4 linked regions of the Homo sapiens genome follow. The protein of the gene in region 1 purifies or fractionates together with the protein of each later gene. This does not show direct contact. Each region holds a gene or a part of one and is shown in the gene's direction. Other genes may lie near its edges.

Region 1 (5,336 bases):
CAGAGGACAAGAGTCCAGTGAGAGGGACCCAACGCCATACCAGGTTGACAGAGGGGAGGCAGGGAGGCCACCCCAGCTCAGGGACCAGCCTGGTCCTGGAGGCATCTGGTCCAGCACGAGGGCTGCAGGGGCCCCACCTGGACCCCGCCGCCAAGGGCTGCACATGAGCCCTGCAGAGCGGCCCTGGTGCCCACAAGAGTAGAAGAGGGCCTGAGTCACGGCCTCTGCTGGGCTCTGCTATTTTTATGTCCAAGTCTGGTTAAAAATAGCTGTCTAAGCTCAGGTTTTAGCTGCAGCTGACAAGACATTAAGTATTAGATACGTAATGCCCACAAGTGACAACCGGGGTCTCTTCCTGTGTCCGTGAGAAAGCAGGGGGGAGACAGCCATGAGGAGAGCCCCTGAGCACCCCGCACTTACCTCTGAAACTTTGGGGCCTGCTGTGGGGCGCGCCCACCAGGTGTCCTCAGAAAGCGTGTGCTGGGCCAGGTGCTCTAGTGACACCCATTACTCTGGGCACGCTGACCCCGTGGAGCCACCGCACGTCGGAGCCCTTTGAGCTGCCTCGGCGTCTGAGCAGTTGCGCCTCCCGGGCAACCAGTGCTTAGAAAGTGCCTCACGTGCTCATGGCCTGGTGAAGGCGACTCCAGGCTGGGCAGAAGCTCAGCGCATGCTGGCCTTGGCCCTGGCGTTCCCCTGGCCGTGTGGACACGACAGCTTGGCGTTCACTGCCCAGCACTAAGAGCAGCTCCGTAAGTCCAGCAGAGCGTTCAAAGCGGGACCAACCTGCCCACGCCCCAGACGCCATCCCGAGAGCAGTGAAAAATTCCCAGGGCTTTCGGCATACGGAGCAGAGCCAGCCAGTCCTGACTGGAGGCTCCGAGGTCAGGAGGCTTCCTCCTTTCTCCTCTCCCCTCCCAGCTCAGAGCTGACAAGGCACAAGCTGAGGTACAGCGTGGGATTGTGCTGCCTGTGTGAGCAAACATTGGGGTGCCAGCCTATCGCGACAAGTGTCTCTGCTTTTAAAACCAGCAGCAGCTTCTTAGCATGTTCAGCGTCGTGTGAGGAGCTGGAGGAAGGGCTCGGGCTCGGGCTCTGTCCAGCAGGAAGAGCACAGCTTCCGCCTCTGCACCCGACCTGGAGCCCGGCCGGACGCCCGGCTGAAGCCGCCTTCATGTGCTCCCAGGCCAGCGGGGCTTCCTGCTGCACAGGGTTCCCTGCAGCCCCCGGTGGGGCACCGGCTGCACTGTTCTGCAGCCTCCAGGGTGGCAACCAGCCAAGCGGCCCAGCTCCAGATGAGAGCAGCCTCTCGCTTGGGGAAACCCAAGTCAGGCCCACTTCCACCAGCCGGGGTGTGACAGGCAGGGACCAGCCAGGAGCAGGAGACATCTCTCTCTCTCTCTCTCACTGGGGCATGTGGCACGGGTCTCCCGCAGGATGGATTAGTGTCAGAGTCAGAACCCCAGCCCTGGTACACCGAAGGACCCAGGGGCTTGGTCCTCAGCCCCAGCCAGAGACCTGGTGGCGTCTGTTCAACCACATGGCCCTCCACTGTCCAGTCCCATGCGCTGGCATGGGAGCCAAGGGCCCTGCCATGGTGCCGAGGCTGTGGTTGGAGGCCCAGCTAGTGCCACACTCGCCTTGCCTCGGCCTCTCTGGGGCCCTTCAGGCATCCTCCTGGCACTTGTGGAGGAAGCAGGCTGCGCCGGAGCCAATGGTGGCCGGGAGCTGCCGGGCAGGTGCCCTGTTCTCATGCTGCCTGCTAACTGCCCGTCTGGTGTTTTTGGTTCCTGCAGTGAGAAGCGCCACCTTCAAGTGAACGTCACCAACCCAGTACAGTGCAGCCTGCACGGGAAGAAGTGCACCGTCTCCGTGGAGACGCGGCTCAACCAGCCCCAGCCCGACTTCACCAAGAATCGCTCGGGCTTCATCCTCAGCGTGCCCGGGAACTGACGCCCCGCGGAGGCCTGGCCCGGAGCCCGGCCACACTCCGAGTCCTGGGTCCCAGTCCAGCTGCTGCCTCCCAACCCATGCCCGCTAGAAACCTGCTGCGAGGGCCCCTCCCAGAGGAGCCCCGCCCCTGTAAGATTTCCTTCCTGGTTTTCTGCCTTTGGTATCATCTTCCTCTGTCCTTACTGTCCACGGTCCCTGTTCAATAAGCCAAAGACCCTGGTGCCCCGCCCAGACCCCTGGGCTGACGTCCAGACCAATCTCACCCCAGAGGCAACTGGATGGTGCCTTTAGTTGGTGCGGATGCCCCGTGGCCAGGTCAAGTCAGAGCACCTGGACAGGTGTCCTCCCTGCTGCTGACCCTGCAGAGGGAAGGGGTGGGGATGCAGGACCCCACTCTGCGGGAGCCCCATAGCCACCTCTCTTGCCCAAGGTGAGCCAGCCCTGGGGACCCAGCTCAGGGAGGCTCTGCTCAGAGTTCGGCGGACCCACCCCAACCCAACTCCCAGCCGCCAGCCAAAGCCACTGGGTGAGCAGAGTCACCCACAGGGCCAGCCCCTCAGCCAGGAGCCAGTGGCAGGAGCGGAACAGCCCATCCAGCAGAGTGAGTCCATCCTTCCCAGGTTCTCCCCTGGGAGACTCCCTTTGCCACCAAGGCCCCCACCAGGGCCTCTGACCACCGCTCTGGAGAGGACAGTGTGGCATGCTCCAAGGATCATCTTACTTAACTCGCAGCCTGTGGCTGTGGTCCTCTTATAGATACTTTCACCGTTTGCAGGGTTGCTAATCAGATACCTGCTGTCACCACACTTGGGTCAGGAACCCTAATGAGAACGGGGAGCTGCCAGGGTGAGGGCAGCCCTCAGGGTCGGCCGCTTTCCCTCTGGACCACCTCCCGCTGCGTTTCCTACTCAGAGAAACAGCAAGGGCGGGGTCAAGACACGGGATGACGGGAAGCAGGAAGCGGGGCAGCAGCACAGCGTGGGGTCCTGGCACTGCAGGCCAGGCCAGGATGCCCACCCCGCCCTCTACACGGCCCCTTGGGGCCTGCGCCCGTGAAACTGGTGCCAGGGAGCACTGCCAGCTTGCCAGTTTCTGCCCAGCAAAAGCACGTATGCTTCAGGGGCCTTCTGAGACCACCTTCCCCACTGAGCCCCAGCTGCTGAGAAGGCCTTGAGGGAAGTAGAGGCTGGGAGCAAATGCCCCATGCGGTGAGAGGATGAGGGGAGCCTACGCCTCAGGCATGTGGTGAGAGGATGAGGGGGAGGGAGCCAACGCCTCAGGTGGAGTGGGCAGAGGTGCAAGAGAGGGATGTACTGAAGCTTCTTCCCGTCCTGCCACAGACACTTCTCCTGCCTTCCCACCCTGACCCGGCAGAACCCACCAAGTGCCTGTGTGCAGCCTCCTGTGCCTCACCCAGGGCCTGACCCCAGAGTGGTCCCAACAACCCGGTCTCATGCCCACTCCCCATCCCTGCTTCCCAAAAATTGCACTGTGTGCAGTTTGCAACAAAGAATCCCGCTGGCATCCTGTCCTTGGGAACCCTTTCTCATTCTCCAAGCCTGGTCAGCTGCCTGCACAGGCAGAGGTGCCCTCAGCCCAGATTAGCAACACTCATAGTTTTGCCAATTACCAGTAGACACTAGTGGAACCATCTAACTGGAACTTCCTCTCTCCTTCCACTTATTTCCTCAAACTTGTTGCTTTACACTAGACACATGCAAATGTATGTTTTAAACACACCAAAACAGATCATGCCAAATGAGTTGCCTGTCAAAGGCTGGAGGGCAGGAGGAGGGCCTGGGTTTGGGTTCTTTCCTCCCAGCCTTTGGATGGTGCCTTGGGCCCCTTAGCCCCAGCGCCAGGGCCTCCCAGCTGAGGCCACAGGACAAGCACTTTTTTATGATGTACTAAAAGCCACAGTATGTGGCAACTGCAAAAGGATCAGGAATTTAGGGTATGATCTCGGTCACGTGTCCCGGGCGCTGAGGGGAAAGGAAGCGGGCATGATTGTAGACAATGAGGGGGTTCTCTTGATGTAATGAAATGCAATTTTATGGTTTGGTGCAAAAACTCCTATTTTCCAGTAAATTAACTTTATTTCTAAAGCATATTTTGATTTGCCATCAAGAGCAATAAAGCATTAAATCTTATTTTTAAAGGTGTTCTGCTTATCTGTCACTGAAAACTTGGTGAAATTTTTGCTTAAATAAAGTCAACCATTATCTGGGAGGATAGAAGGGAGAATTAAGCACAAATCATGTAAAATGGAGGATGATTTGCCTGAGGCTTTTGAACAAAAAGTGAGCAAGAAGCAAGCTGTGGACCGGAGGTGTGAGGAGGGAAGGAGGCCGTGGGGTTGAGTCCCAGCACTTTCTCCTGCCATCTTGAGGCCTGTGCGCTGGCAGCTGGAAGCACACTGCTTAGTGCCAGGGAATATGTTTACTGCAATAGAAGCACGTATGTAGAAAGGAAAGGCTCAGAGACCTACAGCAGCAGACTGGGGACAGGCCAGGCCAGCGGAGTGAAAGGTGCTGGGAGGAAGTGTGGGGGCGGCAGGGAGAGTGAGAGGAAGCAGCAGCTCCTCCTGGGGAAGGGAGCAAGGCCCTGAGGGAGCAACAGGGCATGGCCAGCACCCAAGGGTCCTGCAGCCAGGGTGCTTCCGGTCACTGGTCATTGGCAGAAAAGAACACGCAGCGGTGGCTTCTGTAACTCAGACGAAGGCAGTTGCTTTGTGGAAAGCAAGTGGCCTTGATCACAAGGCTGACAGCTCCCAAGCTACAACTTGAGGACAAGAAAGACTTTCCTAGTACTCAGGAGCAGCTTCAGACCGCAGGGTGCAGGGCCTGGGGAGGGCCACATCCAGCATCCCCATAACCCTCTTCCTGAGGCTGACGCTGGTGGCACGTGCAGGCCTCAGGCTGGCAGTCAGGACAGGTACAGATAGAGCTGGTAGGAACCCCACCCTTGCCGCAATTATGGGCTGGAGTGGCTGCTTCCCTGGGAGCCACAGGGCTGGATTTCTCCCTCCTGGAAACCCGCATGGAGCTAAACCTGCAGGGTTGGCCCATGTGGACGCCAGCCCACCCCTGCTGGCCTGGGAGACCCCGGGGGAAGGGAGCACAGAGCAGAGCCAAGCCCAAGAATACGTGGGAGCAGCAGCTTCAGAGTCACACCTCGACACAGGGAGTCTAGGGTCCAGAGCCCCTGCAGGACCCACCCGGCCAGACCTCACCAGGCCATGCTTGGGCCTGACCCTCCTTGGCCGGAGGTTCCAGTCACCCAGCTCTGCCACGGGAGCCTTTGGGAAACAGCTGCCCTCACCTCGGCCGACGCTAAACCAAAGCTGACTTAACCTGTGCTTCCTTCTTAATCACCTTAGTGTG
Region 2 (4,733 bases), on another chromosome or scaffold:
AATGCCCTGTAAGTGGCCAAGGGAAAGTGGGTGCCACTGTCAGTCAGTCATAGAGTAACTTCCTCTCAGTTTCAGAATACATCACATTCTATTCATGACTTGTGACCATTTGAAACAAGGATGGAATAAGTAACTGGTGTCAGTCTGTAAGATTTGTATAACTACCACAGAGCCAAGATACAAATATTAATAAATCACAATTTCTCTTTTATTTTTGTTGAGAAATGAGTATAAGTAGAAATCTAACATTTTCTTCCCACACCCCAGCAGATACTCTGGCACCCAAATTTGCAGCTCGCTGGAAATTCTACAGCCTCCTCAAGGGGGATTGCTAACTCCTGGAAAAAAAATCATAAAATATACAGTGAGCACTTCTCTCCCTTGTCTCCATGATCACAAGCCCCCATATTATATTATGCTGCAGAGAGGCCTGGTAACTGCTTTAAACTGCATAATTTTCAGAAAAAGTTACCTTTTTTACAGATTAAAAGATTAAGTTTCTCTAGGGGACAGGCCTCTGTGTATGCCAGAGAAAGTAATGTTCCACGTCAGCTTTTTGTGTTTCTTTTGGTTTCCTGTATTGCATTATTTAGGGTGGGATTTATCTTGAAGTGCCCTCCCCCAACCTCACAAAATTCATTGAGAAAACTCAAGATGTATCATAAACAGTCTAAAATATTTTGAACCACTCCCCCTGCCAGATTGATCACTGAACTATAAGCTGACGCATTTGCAGAAAAACTTCTCAAGAACAGTTTTGTACTTTCAGTAGAAGCAGTCTTTTTCATAGCATTTAGAAAAATGTGGTATGGTGCCTGGTGATTCATCGTGGATCTTCCCAAATTGCCTGATCTTCCAAAGTATGTTCATTCTCCTGGGAAGCCACATTAACTTTTATGTTCAGAAAACATTTATTTTAAGAAAACTCAGATGGATATTATTTGAGTACTATGAAAAATAAAATGTTATGTTTTAAATGTGTCTGTTCTATACAGTTTTAGAAACAAAAATGAGTGTCCCTTCCACAAAAACAAAACAAAAGGCTAATTTTATAAGCTGGAATGCAGATAAATTAATTATATGATTAAATGTATGATAAATTAATGCTTAGTCAATAAATACAATATGATCATAATTTGTAACTGATGCAGTGATTATAATGTATGATTTTATAGTAATAGAAAAATTAAAATACAAATTTTGAATGAATGCCTTGGTATTTACTAGAAAAAAACTGTCTGTAATTTTGTGTGTATTTGTGTGTACTCAAATTACCTGATTAAGACATAGAATGAGGAGGTGGATGTGGGTGTAAGTATATGACTCTGGCTATATACAGATACAAAGTAATTGAGATTTGTGTCAGCTGAAGAAAGACCCAAAACCATGTAGTTGCATGACCAATATAAACTAAAAGGAAGTATTGGTGCCATAAAGTTATCATAATTTTCTCTATAAAGTGAGGAAAGTAAGACACAAAAATGTTAAACCCTATCAAATTGGTGCTATTTTATAAAAATGAGCATATGTTTTAACCTTAGTTTATACTGTATTTCCTCATGGAATATTTAACTTTCTAAGTGTGAAACATAGTGAAATTTGGACTAATTTCATTTTCTTTCTTTTCACATATATATGAAGAAAACTGAATATCCTGATGTTGCTTGGCCATTGAGATTTCGCATCCTGCATGAAATTGCCCTTGGTGTAAATTACCTGCACAATATGACTCCTCCTTTACTTCATCATGACTTGAAGACTCAGAATATCTTATTGGACAATGAATTTCATGTTAAGGTAATTACTTTTTTAAAAAGTTTATGTTTCCTTGTCCTTATAGTTTTAAAAATACTTTTTAGTTATTTCTTCGACCTAGCCAATTTCATGTCTCTCCTTAGAGATAGAGACTAATGAATAGTAATTTCCATAGCCCCTAATTTCTATCTTCTATTCTCCTTCTTCCTACTGCAGTTAGGAAGTTATTCCTAGACAGAGATAGAATTATGGTACAAAATACAAAGCCATTATGTTTCTTAATTGAATTGTCAAGATCACCTTTTTTTTTTACTTTTTATTTTAAAATTATTATATATTTATAGGAAGTTGCAAAGGTAATAAAGAGGTTTCATGTATCCTTCACCTGGTTTCCCACATTGTTATATCACACATAATTATAGTATAATTTCAAGACCAGGAATTTGACATTAGTACAATGTGTGTTCATAGTAACCGCAACAATCAAGGTACAGCACTACTCATAACATCACCACAAAGATAACACTCATCCTACCTCACCCACTTCCTCCCTACCACAATCTGTACCCCTAACAACCACTAATCTGCTTTCCATCTCTTTAATTTTGTCATTTTGAAAATGCTATATAAGTGGAATCATATAGTATGTGATATTTTGAGATTGGCTTTGTTCACGTCACATAATGCTCTTGTGATCCGTCTAAGTTGTGCTTGTAACAATAGTTGTTTTTTATTGATAAGTAGTATTCCACAGTATAAATGTACCAAAGTTAACCATTCAGGAACATTTTGGTTCTTTCCATTTTGGGGTAATTATTTACAAAGCTGCTGTGAACAAAGCTGTACAGGTTTATGAGTGAACATAAGTCTTCATTACTCTGTGATAAATGCCCAAGAATGCAAATGCTGGGTCATATGGTAAGGGTGTGTTTAGTTTTTAAAGAAAGTATCCAACTATTTTCCAGAGTGGCTGTACCATTTTACATTCCACCAGCAATGTGTGAGAGATCCAGCTATTCCGCATCATTTTCTAAAGGGATTCTTTGGTTTTCTTACTGTTGAGTTTTGAGAATTCTGTATATGTTACAGTAGTAGTTCTTCATCAGATATGTAGTTTGCAAATATTTCCTCCCAGTTATAGTTTATCTTTTCATCCTTTTAACAGGGACTTTCACAAAGCAAAATGATAATACCAAATGCCCACCAGCATTTGGTATTATCACTGTTTTCTGTTTAGCTGTTCTAATAGATGTGTAGTGATATCTCATCTTGGTATTAATTTGCATTTTCCTAACTGCTAATGATATCGAACACCTTTTTATATGCTAATTTGCCACCCATACGTGGTTTTCAGTGAAATGTCTCTCATGTCTTAAGCTCATTTTCTAAAGGGATTCTTTGGTTTTCTTACTGTTGAGTTTTGAGAGTTCTGTATTTGTTACAGTAGTAGTTCTTCATCAGATATGTAGTTTGCAAATATTTCCTCCCAGTTATAGTTTGTCTTTTCATCCTTTTAACAGGGACTTTCACAAAGCAAAAATTTTAATTTTGATGAAGTCCATATTTTTTCTTCTATGGATCATGCTTTTGCTGTCATCTCTAAGCACTTTTCACCAAGTTCTACTTACTGAAGATTTCCTTTTTTGTTATCTTCTGTAAGTTTTATAGTTTTATGTTACATATGTAATCTGTGATCCACCTTGAATTCATTTTTTAATAAGATGCAGGACTTAAGTGCTGAAGACACTGGCTATTGTGATTTCACAGCTATACTATATCTAACTGAGTGTAAATAAAAAGTAGTTTTTGAGTAATTAATACTAAATGTAACTCACCATATTTTTATGTATCATTTTGCTATACTTCTTTTAATAACATGTAATCAGAAAATTATTATAAATATAAAAAATGTTCAAAGAAATCAGTAATAGAGAAGTTGAAACAACAGGGAAATTAAAACAAGAAATGTGAGAGAAAATAAGTGGGAAAAATTTTTATTGAAGACACTCCTCTCCTTAGAATAAAGTGGTAGGGGAAAGGAGAGAGAAGCAAGCTGCTGCCTCAGTATTGCTAAGAAAAAAAGAGACTAATCTATTCCATCAATTATAGAACCATCAAGTAGAAATACCTTAATGGTCAACTAGTTCTCTGATACTTCACTGCAACAATCCCTGTCTCCCAAAGCAGTTATCCTGTAACAGGGAGTCTTAACATCCTTAATTGAATAATTGTGACATTTTCTTAAATGATCAACCAAAATTCCTTCCTGGTTGCTTCCACACATTGATCCTAGTTCAACTTTTTGTGATAAACAGAATAAATCCAATTTAGTTACTTCAGCAAGACAGCCCTTTCAATATTTGAAGATAGCTATGAGCTGTCTCCCAAACCCTCACGTACAAGTGCATTTTATCCATCTCCCTGATAAATACCCTTTAGTTCCTTCAACTCGTTTTCTTATTACATGGATTTTAATCCTTGGTGCTATGTAGATGCATCATTTTGTTTAAATCTCACTTAAATGTTGATCGTCAGAACTGAACACAATACTATTTTTGGTGCGGTTTGATGAATGCAGACTTTAGTGAAAGTGTCATTTCCTTGGCCCTAAATACTTAATAGTTCCTTAATAATTCATCAGCTTTCCAGGGGTAGTCATATCACATAGTTCAAATTGGGCTTAGTGTCAACAAAAAACCCTTGGAGGTTCTTTTTGCCACGTATCGTTGCTTAAGCCACCTCTTCTTAAGCAACAAAGTACACAAAATAATGTACTTTGCAGAATACTTTCTAGATATGATCAAATTTTATCTTGTTAGATTGGAGCAATTGCTTCAGTCTCTTAAGACCTTTTTGAATGTTATTTCTATAATCCAAAGGTTTTAAGTTTCTCTCCAAGTTTTGTGTGATGCTGAAATTTAATTAGCTAATTTTTTGTATCTTTAAGTCATGATTAAATATGAACCAGTACAGAGCTT
Region 3 (4,733 bases), about 31 Mb from region 1:
AAATATTTATTTTTATACATTTGTATTTATATACTCTGGTTTATATATTGTCTAATTCTGTCTTTTTTTTTTTTTTTGAGACGGAGTTTCGCTCTTGTTGCCCAGGCTGGAGTGCAATGGCACCATCTTGGCTCACCGCAACCTCCGCCTCCCAGCTTGAAGCAGTTCTCCTGCCTCAGCCTCCCGTGTAGATGGGATTACAGGCATGTGCCACCACGCCCAGCTAATTTTGTAGTTTTAGTAGAGACGGGGTTTCTCCATGTTGGTCAGGCTGTTCTCGAACCCCTAACCTCAGGTGATCCACCTGCCTTAGCCTCCCAAAGTGCTGGGATTACAGGCGTGAGCCCCTGGGCCCTGCCAATTCTATCTTTTTTTTCATACAACTTTGTATTTGTGTGTTGTTTATCTTTTTATCCCTAGAGTTTGAACACCTTGAAATATCTTTTAAAACTTTCTAATGTGTAATACAAGATAAGTATTCAGTAAATTGTTGTTAATGATTTATAAAAGTTCAGTAATAAAATTAAGTATTAGGGTAGATTAAATGGCCTCCAGTCTTTTTCCATTGACCTTTTCTCATTGATGATAATAATAGCCAGCATTTTTTTAGCATTACTGTGTTAGGTACCATAAGAAATAATTCGTAGGTTTTCTGTTGCTTTTAACTCCCACAGCAGCTTTGTGAAATGATGCTTTATCTCCATTTTACAGATGAGGAAATTGAGGTTTGGAGAGAATAAATGATTTGCTCAGGGCCTCCTTACCAAATTTTTCTGACTCTGAAGTTCATATTCCTAACTGCTTCAGTCTAAGAAAGTTGTTATTTGTTGTTTTTTTTTTTGAGATGGAGTCTCGCCCTGTCGCCATGCTGGAGTTCAGTAGCGCTATCTCAGCTCACACCAACCTCCGCCTCCTGTGTTCAGGCAATTCTCCTGCCTCAGCCTCCCAAGTAGCTGGGATTACAGGCGCACACCACCACGCGCAGTTAATTTTTTTGTATTTTTAGTAGAGACGGGGTTTCACCATGTTGGCCAGGCTGGTTTCGAACTCCTGACCTCAAGTGATCCACGCATCTTGGCCTCCCAAAGTGCTAGAATTACAGGCGTGAGCCTCTGCGCCCAGCCTGTTATTTGTTTTTAAAAGTTTTGTTTGTTTTTAAAGAATGCCACATTGGAGGAGTGCTGATAATTCAGTTAGTCTCAGTCCATACCACAGAGATAACTGGCTTGTGGCAGCCAAGTGTGCATAGTGATGTTGCTTTTTAGAAGGAAAAAAAACAAAAACAAAACCTCAATCCAGGAAGAAATGCCTAAAAGAGCCACTTGATTTACTTCCTGTCTTTATACATGTCCTCTGAAGTATCAGTTGAAGAACCTGTCTACCTCTAGGAATGTATTTTACTTTGACACAAAATTAGATTCTATAACCCTGATTCACTTGTGTCAGTTGTCCCAGATTTCAGATGACAGTGCCAAACTTTTCCACTAGTGTGTTCTCAGCTCTGGAACTACTAAACAAGTTTGTTCATTAAGTAATGCCAGGAATTGGTTAGCTTCCTGGAAACAGAATTTGTCAACCTGATAAACCAGCTCTTATAATAGCGTCATCTTATACAGAATTAGAAATGATTTCTTCAGTCATACTTGTGGATCTGACTTGAAAAGTGGTGTGTGTATGTGTGTGCCTGTATGTGTATTCACATCCATCTTTGTTCAATATCTGAGTTGAAAGAACTGAAAATTCTCAATACTTAGGGTGGTTAATGTTGTTACTGATAACTCCTTGCATTCCGCTTTTAGGAGTATTGTTGGATGCTCCTCAGAAAACACTTAAACCTAGTCATAATCCTCCTTGTATTGATCCCAATTTATTATTACAGTTGGCCCAATTTTATATATATTTAATAATATCTAAGCCATTTAATATATAAACCTATACATATTATATATAAGCCAATCTTCCTAGCTTAGATGTTATGCTCTAGTTTTTAAAGTTTGGTTGTGAGGATAAAAATCAAAACAAAAAACCAAGTTCCCTTTTTGTTTTTGGGACAGGGTCTCACTGTCGCCCAGGCTGAAGTACAGTGGCATGATCATGGCTCACTGCAGCCTCAACCTCCTGGGCTCAAGTGATCCTTCCACCTAAGCCTCTCAAGTAGCTGAGCCTACAGCGTGCACCACCATGCCCAGCTAATTTTTTGTATTTTTTGTAGAATGTAGTTTTGCCATGTTGCCCAGTCTGGTCTCGAACTCCTGGGCTCAAGCAATCCACCTGCCTCAGCCTCCCAAAGTGCTGGGATTACAGGCATGAGCCACCCTGTCCAGCCAGGTTCCCTTCTTTAAAGAAGCTATAGGGAAATTGTAGAAGGTATAAAATAATTGATGGGATATATATGTGTTAATTTGACAGATGTCTTTTTGTAGATACCCACTTTCTCCTCATTCATTATCCCCTTTACTGCATGCTTTCTATATTACAGCTATGTCACTCTCATACATACTTTTGTATATGTTTTGAAGTGGAATCATATGGGAAGTTATGCTCCTGGTGGTTTTCCTGCAAGTTTTAAATCTAATTTTACTTTCCTGAACAAGCAAAAACCTCTTTATAGGCAACTTTGTCCTTTTCTGTACCTCGTCAGAGGGCATATAGGGCACCAGAGCAGATTTCGTCTAGGAAGAGGGGAGAGGCAAATAAGGTGAGGGGCCAGGCACGGTGGCTTATGTCTGTAATCCCAGCATTTTGGGAGGCTAAGGAGGGAGGATCGCTTGAGCTCAGGTGTTTGAAATCAGCCTGGGCAACATGGTGAAACCCTCGCTCAATAAAAAATACAAAAATTAGCAGGGCATGGTGGTGTGCACCTGTAGTCCCAGCTACTCTGGAGGCTGAGGTGGAGGATTGTTTGAGCCTGGGGGTGGAGGAGGCTGCAGTGAGCTGTGATTGCACCACTGCACTCTAGCCTGGGCAACAGAGTGAAACCCTGTTTCAGTCAGTCAGTCAATCAGTTAATCAGTAGTGGGAGAAGAGACTTGAGCAGTTTTACTTCCTACATTTCATGCTGTTCGTTTCTTTCCACAGGGTATTAGAATATTTCCAAGGGACAGTGATAAAGGGTAGAAGATAGGCACTCTCTTTGGGTGGAATCTTTTGTATTTGCTTCTTTTAAGGTGTGCCCCAAGTCCCCAAATGGCTCAGTTGTCACCAAAGCAAGTGTAACAACTCATCCCTCATGTTCCCTTCACGATCAACAGATTTATTCATTTTCAATCTCCAAATGCTATTTGAATGGGCAAAGATCTCTTAAAGGACCTGGGAAAAATTTGTACAACATGGAATTGGACTGGTTTGTGTTCTGGGTTTTGGCCAGTTGTTTTCAATGTATGAGAACTCTAGTACTCCATGCTATTTCAAGAAAAGGGGATTAAAAGTAATGCCAGTAAGGTGGAGACAATGCATTGCTTGGTCAGCTTAGGGAGGAAAAACAATAGAACTACCCTTTGACTTCCCCATGGGAAGTAGTAGGCCTATAAACTTGTAAAGAGTTGTGGGGGTTGCTGGTGGTGGCGGCATTCAAATGCTAGGCTTGTAAAACAACTTCTGTTCAAAGCAGTTACCTGAGGCCCTTATTTGGTACCTTTTAAAGTGTGCTCTCCTCCTTATGATGCTTTAAGAATAAGTCTGGGACTGACACTGTGCCATAATCCTCTCTCTATGGATTCATCTTTTCATTCAGTACCATATTACATTGTACTGTGTTCTTCACTTCAATTTTTCATCTATTTTTCCTGGTTAAGTTTCTCTGGCACTGGACCAACTGCCCTGTTTGAGCGTGTCCCTTCCCTGCAATGAATTGGTAAATATTGCTGCAGGAAATCTGATTGGAGGGCTATTAAGAAACCATTAAAGGCCAGGCATGGTGGCCCACACCTGTATGTAATCTTAGCACTTTGGGAGGCCGAGGCAGGAGGATCACTGGAGTCCAGGAGTTGGAGACCAGCCTGGGCAACATGGGGAGACCCCGTCTCTACAAAAAATAAAAAAATCATCCAGGCATGGTGGTGCATGCCTGTGTTCCCAGCTACTCAGGAGGCTGATGTGGGAAGGTCACTTGAGCCCCAGAGTTGGAGGCTGCAGTGAGCTATGATCACGCCACTGCACTCCAGCCTGAGTGACAGAGCAAGACCTTGTCTCGAAGAAAAAAAAGAATCCATTAAAATTCAAATTGCCATAGTCTGACCTTTTGGGCTGCATCTGATTATAGTTACAGGGTCTGTCATTTTACCTGGGCAGAACTCCCTGAGTATTAGTTATACAGTTTGTGAAAGAGCTTTGCTGGTCTGTATTTAAGTGTCTTAGTCCATGTGCTCTCTTTCATTGCAGACGAACAGGAGGCATTGAACTCAATCATGAACGATCTGGTGGCCCTCCAGATGAACCGACGTCACCGGATGCCTGGATATGAGACCATGAAGAACAAAGACACAGGTCACTCAAATAGGCAGGTGTGTGTGACCCTGGCAGAGCTAAGTGAGATTTGTTGGGGAGGGGTTTTCAAATGGGAAATATACGAAAAGCCAAGGAGACTACATTACCAGGGTTGAATGCTTTTGACCCCTTCCTTTCACAGTCTGTTAAATGGGAAGTAATACATACCAACCAGGTATGGTTAAATGGTAAGTGATATTGGGAGGCCGAGGCAGGCGGATCACCTGAAGTCAGTAGTTTGAGACCAG
Region 4 (4,733 bases), on another chromosome or scaffold:
TGATGTACTCTTGCTCCCCTGACCGGTTGAGGGGGCCTGGGCTGATGTGGTTCTTTACTGGGCAGAGCTTGATTCATAGCGATGACAATTCATAAACAGATATTGAATTCAGGACCTTCTATGTGTGAAATAATGGCTTCTCCTGGGGGATAGCTAATGTACAGGGAGCCAAGTCCTCCATGTGACTAGGTCATCTGACCAGGTCCTTTTGAGGGCTACTAGTTTTTTCTGCAGAAGGTGGGTTTTCACTGGCTCTCCCTCATCTGCAGTAATTTCCAGATTCACCCTCATCCTCATTCTAGAGCACATTAAGTACCTCACCTCTGCTAGGAAGTAGAGTTTAGAATTTGTTTTGTTGAAGACCACCTCGTGCCTTAGGAACTGGAAGCCATGCTGGGTAGAGGCCGTTCTGGATATAACCTGTCCCTTGCAGAGTGACCCACTCTGACTGCATCTTTCTGCTCTACATTTCAGACAGTTGCTAGACCTGAGGTCCTTCCTTGAACCCCAGCTTGCAGAGGGCAGATCCCAGTACCACATCCAGCTCTTGGCTAGCTTCATTACGGGAGTTATGTTCTGGGGGTGGGGGCTTGATACTGGCTGGACTCCTTCAAAAGCTCTGTCTGGCCTGCAGAATTGACATTGTCTAGGCCTTCTGTTGTTTTGCTCCACTGGGACCAGGTAGACCTGCTTGATGTAGATGTGAATGGAATTAACCTCAAGTTTGCCTCATTCCTTTGGAAACTTAATGCTGGACTCTTGGCCTCAGAAACCAGGCTCACAACTGGGCCATTTCTCCTTAACAATGGCTATGTCTGTTCCTGGCTTCTTCCCCTTCCTCACCGGCTCATGCTGTTGTGAGCCTCAGTAAGCAAGGAATTGAGCCCCTGGAATTATGACAGAAATTATGCTATAAGCACCACACATCTTTAACAGTGTTGCTTTTTTAACCAGAGAGGGGCGACCTTCACCTTTCGGGACATTTCTGGTTGGGAAAATCAGAGAGCAGGGTGATAGCAATAATAATGGTAACTGACAATTGTTTCTCTCGCGTTTAGCGATTTAGACAATGCTTTCTCCCCAGTTTTCAGGAGATAGAAGAAAAAGGAATCACTGATAGCTAGGCTGGATACATGATAAGTATTCAAAACAGCATTAAAAGTCTGGATTTTCTGGGATGAGAAGCTGAGCAGGCTAGTTGAAAAGTTGGAGTTAGCTGGCGTTATATTCTGTGAGGCCCAGGGAGCAGTGTAGTTGTGAACTCTGTGATAAGAGAAGCACTTTTTCTATATTTGGGGAGGGAGAGGCTCTTTGGCTGAATATCATAATTTGTCTTACTAAATGAGGCAAAAAGCCTCATTTCATTTATTGAATAAGTGAAATTCAAACTACCTCCCTGCCATCCCCACGGATGTGGCTCATTTTTGATGCCCAGATGCCTAAGAGACTCAAAATCCAAAATTACTTTTTGTTGAAATAGCTCAAGATTTGGGGAAATAATTGTCCATGGTTGTATATCTGACTCATCAGGATACATTAGTTATCAATGTTCCTGGTCAATCAACTTCAGTGATTTGAACATTTCCCAAGTGCCAGGAGCTGAGGAATATGAAGATGGGTTAGAGATTTTCCCCTCTCTCAACTAGCTTATAGTCCAGGGGGTGATGAGGCTGTAAACCAGGAGAGGCAAAGTACTGCTGATCCCTGGTGGCCTGTTTTCATATAGCCTGTGAGCTAATAATGGTTTTTACTTTATTAAAGTGTAGGGAAAAAATGCAACAGAAATGTGCCCATGAGGCCTGGAGAGCCTGAAATATTCACCATCTGACTCTTCACAGAAGTTTGCGGACCTCTGCTCCAAATGAGGATCTGCACAAGTCAGGCTGGGGCAAGTCCCACGACAGAGACGTGTACTTGGTGCTCTGGGATGAAATAGCAGGGGGGACTGGGGAGGGCCGTAGATGAGGCGGCAGTGTGTTGGCCCAAGAAAGAAAAGAGTTGTCCCAGTGAAGAAAATAAGGACTTTTTGGGAAAATCATGAGAAAAAGAATCCCAAGTGAGTGGCATTTGGGAATCATGGTTGAAATGAAGATTAAAAGATAGTTTGGGGCCATCTTATAAAGGACAGTAATTATCATGCTAAAAGATGTATACTTTATAATACAGAAACATGGTGATGTTGCAGATTGCTGAGAATAAGAGAGAAGGAGCCGCATGTGTGATCTAGAAAAGCGGCTCTGTTGATGTTGTGGGGGATGAATTAGGCCTGGTGGGAGGTGGTAAAGAGAGACAGGAGACAGGCATAGTGAATAGCTATGGATATAGTTTTAAAAATTGTAACTTAATTCAAACTAAAATAAATGAAATTCAAACTACATAAAACAGTTAAACAAAATGAGCTAATTTTTATTTTCATATCTGAAAAATACTCTGCAGTCAAATCAGGTAGAGTTAGAATAGAAAATATGATTTTATGATATAAAATACATTAATAATATTTATCATGAATTGCTAGGAGGACAGTCATAATTATCTCAGTACTGGGAAGACATTTGATGATGAAGTTTAGTATTCATTCCTGATAAACACTCTTAGTAAAATAGGACTCAAAGACTAGTTCCTGAACCCGATGGAAGGGTATTATATTAAGCCAACAACTGGTGTCATACTTAGTGTTGAGTCACTAGGAGCATCCCCAGTTAAATAAAATACCAAACAAAGATGCCTGCTCTTGCTATTATTTAATGTAGTTTTGGGAGGGTTCTGACAATGTAGTTGTACAACATGAAAGAAATATATCTTTGTATTGGAAAGGAGGAGACAAAATTAGTATTTATAGAAATTAGGAGATTATGTAGCTGATATAATGGAGAATCAACTAAAATTATTACAGTTAATGAGAGAATTCAGTAAGTTTACGAAGGATACAAAGCTAACATGTAAACAAGTTTTCTTGAGTATCTCAAATAACCAGTTGGAAAATATAATTTAAAAATATTAGGAGTATGATTTATACGAAATATTCAGGACCTACAGAAATAAAATGAAGCAATCCTAATAGGAGAAACATTTTTTTAGAAAATGGAGAGGTGTACCTTCGTTCTTCATTGACTTGAGAATGATAACTCCAGAACTCAAACCCCAGCTCTAAGGCCTTGGGCAAGCCTCTTGACTTCTCTGGGCCTGAATTTCCTTGTGTAAAGTAGGAACAGTAATGGTGAGAAGAAAAGTAATGCATGCAAAGTGCTCTGAAAAGTGGTCGGCATGTAGAAGTAATCAAACAGCAGGCAAATGTGGAGGGCAGGCGTGACCAGCATCTGGAAGGAGAGGTTTGTGGTGCTGTGAGAGCTGACAGTTGGAGGGTTTGCTTTTTTTTTTTTTTTTTTTTTTTTGAGACGGAGTCTCGCTCTGTCGCCCAGGCTAGAGTGCAGTGGTGCAATCTCGGCTCACTGCAAGCTCCGCTTCGCGGGATCACGCCATTCTCCTGTCTCACCCTCGTAAGTAGCTGGGACTACAGGCGCCCGCCACCATGTCTGGCTAATTTTTTTTGTATTTTTAGTAGAGACGGGGTTTCACCGTGTTAGCCAGGATGGTCTCGATCTCTCGACCTCGTGATCCGCCTGCCTCGGCCTCCCAAAGTGCTGGGATTACAGGCGTGAGCCACCGCGCCCGGCCGGGTTTGCTTTTTAATCCTCATGTTCTTATGTCCCCCTTGGGGAAGGTGTGTGTGTTCATAGCAGATAACTATGTGTAATGGTTGCCTGATGCCTCCACATGCCAGAAATACATACACTGTTTATTTCTGAACACTCCCAAAAAAGAATGAGAGTCAATAAAGAGCAAAGAAGACATGAAAATCAAAAACAGAGAGGTGAGGTTTTTGGGAACCAGCGTGGCTAGAGGCAGGAAGCCTAGTGGCTGGCATATGGGTGTGGGAATCCTGGAGTCAGATCCCGGGTTCACATCTGGGGCATCACCGCTTACCAGCTCTTTGATTTCACACAAATAACTTGAGTTGTTCATTTGCAAAATGAGGTTCAGAACAATACCTACATCACAGTGGGTGGGGACTAAATGAAATGCTTTCTGTAAAGTACTTACTGCAGGGCCTGACCCATAGGAAGTGCTAAATAAATAGTTATTCTCATAATCACTGTCACTGATTTTGTATGTAACACAACTTCATTGGAAACATTGTTTTCTGGGAAAAATGTCTTTATAACAAAAATCATTTTTCTGATTTTAGAATTTATTGTAGAAATTTGGGAAGGCTCAGAAAAGCATAAGGAAGGAAAATAAGTCACTGCAATTTTTAAAAAATATATTTTCCCATCCCTCTCTCACTTCTTGTTGCTGTAATCTTCTAACCCATTGCTAACAACTGTTACCATTTTGGTGCATATGTTTCCAATATTTTTATGCATAATTTTGAATCATCTATATATACATATTTGTACATATATATTTTCCATTTCTTCTATTTTGTGTGTGTGTGTGTGTGTGTGTGTGTGTGTGTGTGTGTGTGTGTGTTTGAGACGGAGTCTTGCTCTGTCGCCCAGGCTGGAGTGCAGTGGCGCCGTCTTGGCTCACTGCAAGCTCCGCCTCCCGGGTTCACGCCATTCTCCTGCCTCAGCCTCCCGAGTAGCTGGGACTAAAGGCGCCCACCACCATGCCCAGCTAATTTTTTTGTATTTTTAGTAGAGACGGGCTTTCACCGTGTTAGCCAGGATGGT

The links. The genes of interacting proteins can lie anywhere in the genome.
Region 2: the proteins of MYO1D (region 1) and RIPK2 purify together in Homo sapiens (tandem affinity purification; one large-scale study listed by IntAct). This does not show direct contact.
Region 3: the proteins of MYO1D (region 1) and MAP3K3 purify together in Homo sapiens (tandem affinity purification; one large-scale study listed by IntAct). This does not show direct contact.
Region 4: the proteins of MYO1D (region 1) and FAXC purify together in Homo sapiens (co-immunoprecipitation; one large-scale study listed by IntAct). This does not show direct contact.

Annotation. Positions count from the first base shown.
Region 1 is NC_000017.11:32,491,376-32,496,711, reverse strand, and holds the end of MYO1D (unconventional myosin-Id), read left to right. Parts: intron 1-420; exon of another isoform or gene 421-1,264; intron 1,265-1,796; coding exon 1,797-1,953; 3' UTR 1,954-4,190; downstream 4,191-5,336. UniProt on the Homo sapiens protein: Unconventional myosin that functions as actin-based motor protein with ATPase activity. Plays a role in endosomal protein trafficking, and especially in the transfer of cargo proteins from early to recycling endosomes.
Region 2 is NC_000008.11:89,763,700-89,768,432, forward strand, and holds part of RIPK2 (receptor-interacting serine/threonine-protein kinase 2), read left to right. Parts: intron 1-1,641; coding exon 1,642-1,797; intron 1,798-3,309; exon of another isoform or gene 3,310-3,410; intron 3,411-4,733.
Region 3 is NC_000017.11:63,628,301-63,633,033, forward strand, and holds part of MAP3K3 (mitogen-activated protein kinase kinase kinase 3), read left to right. Parts: intron 1-4,380; coding exon 4,381-4,502; intron 4,503-4,733. UniProt on the Homo sapiens protein: Component of a protein kinase signal transduction cascade. Mediates activation of the NF-kappa-B, AP1 and DDIT3 transcriptional regulators.
Region 4 is NC_000006.12:99,318,058-99,322,790, reverse strand, and holds part of FAXC (failed axon connections homolog), read left to right. Parts: intron 1-4,733. UniProt on the Homo sapiens protein: May play a role in axonal development.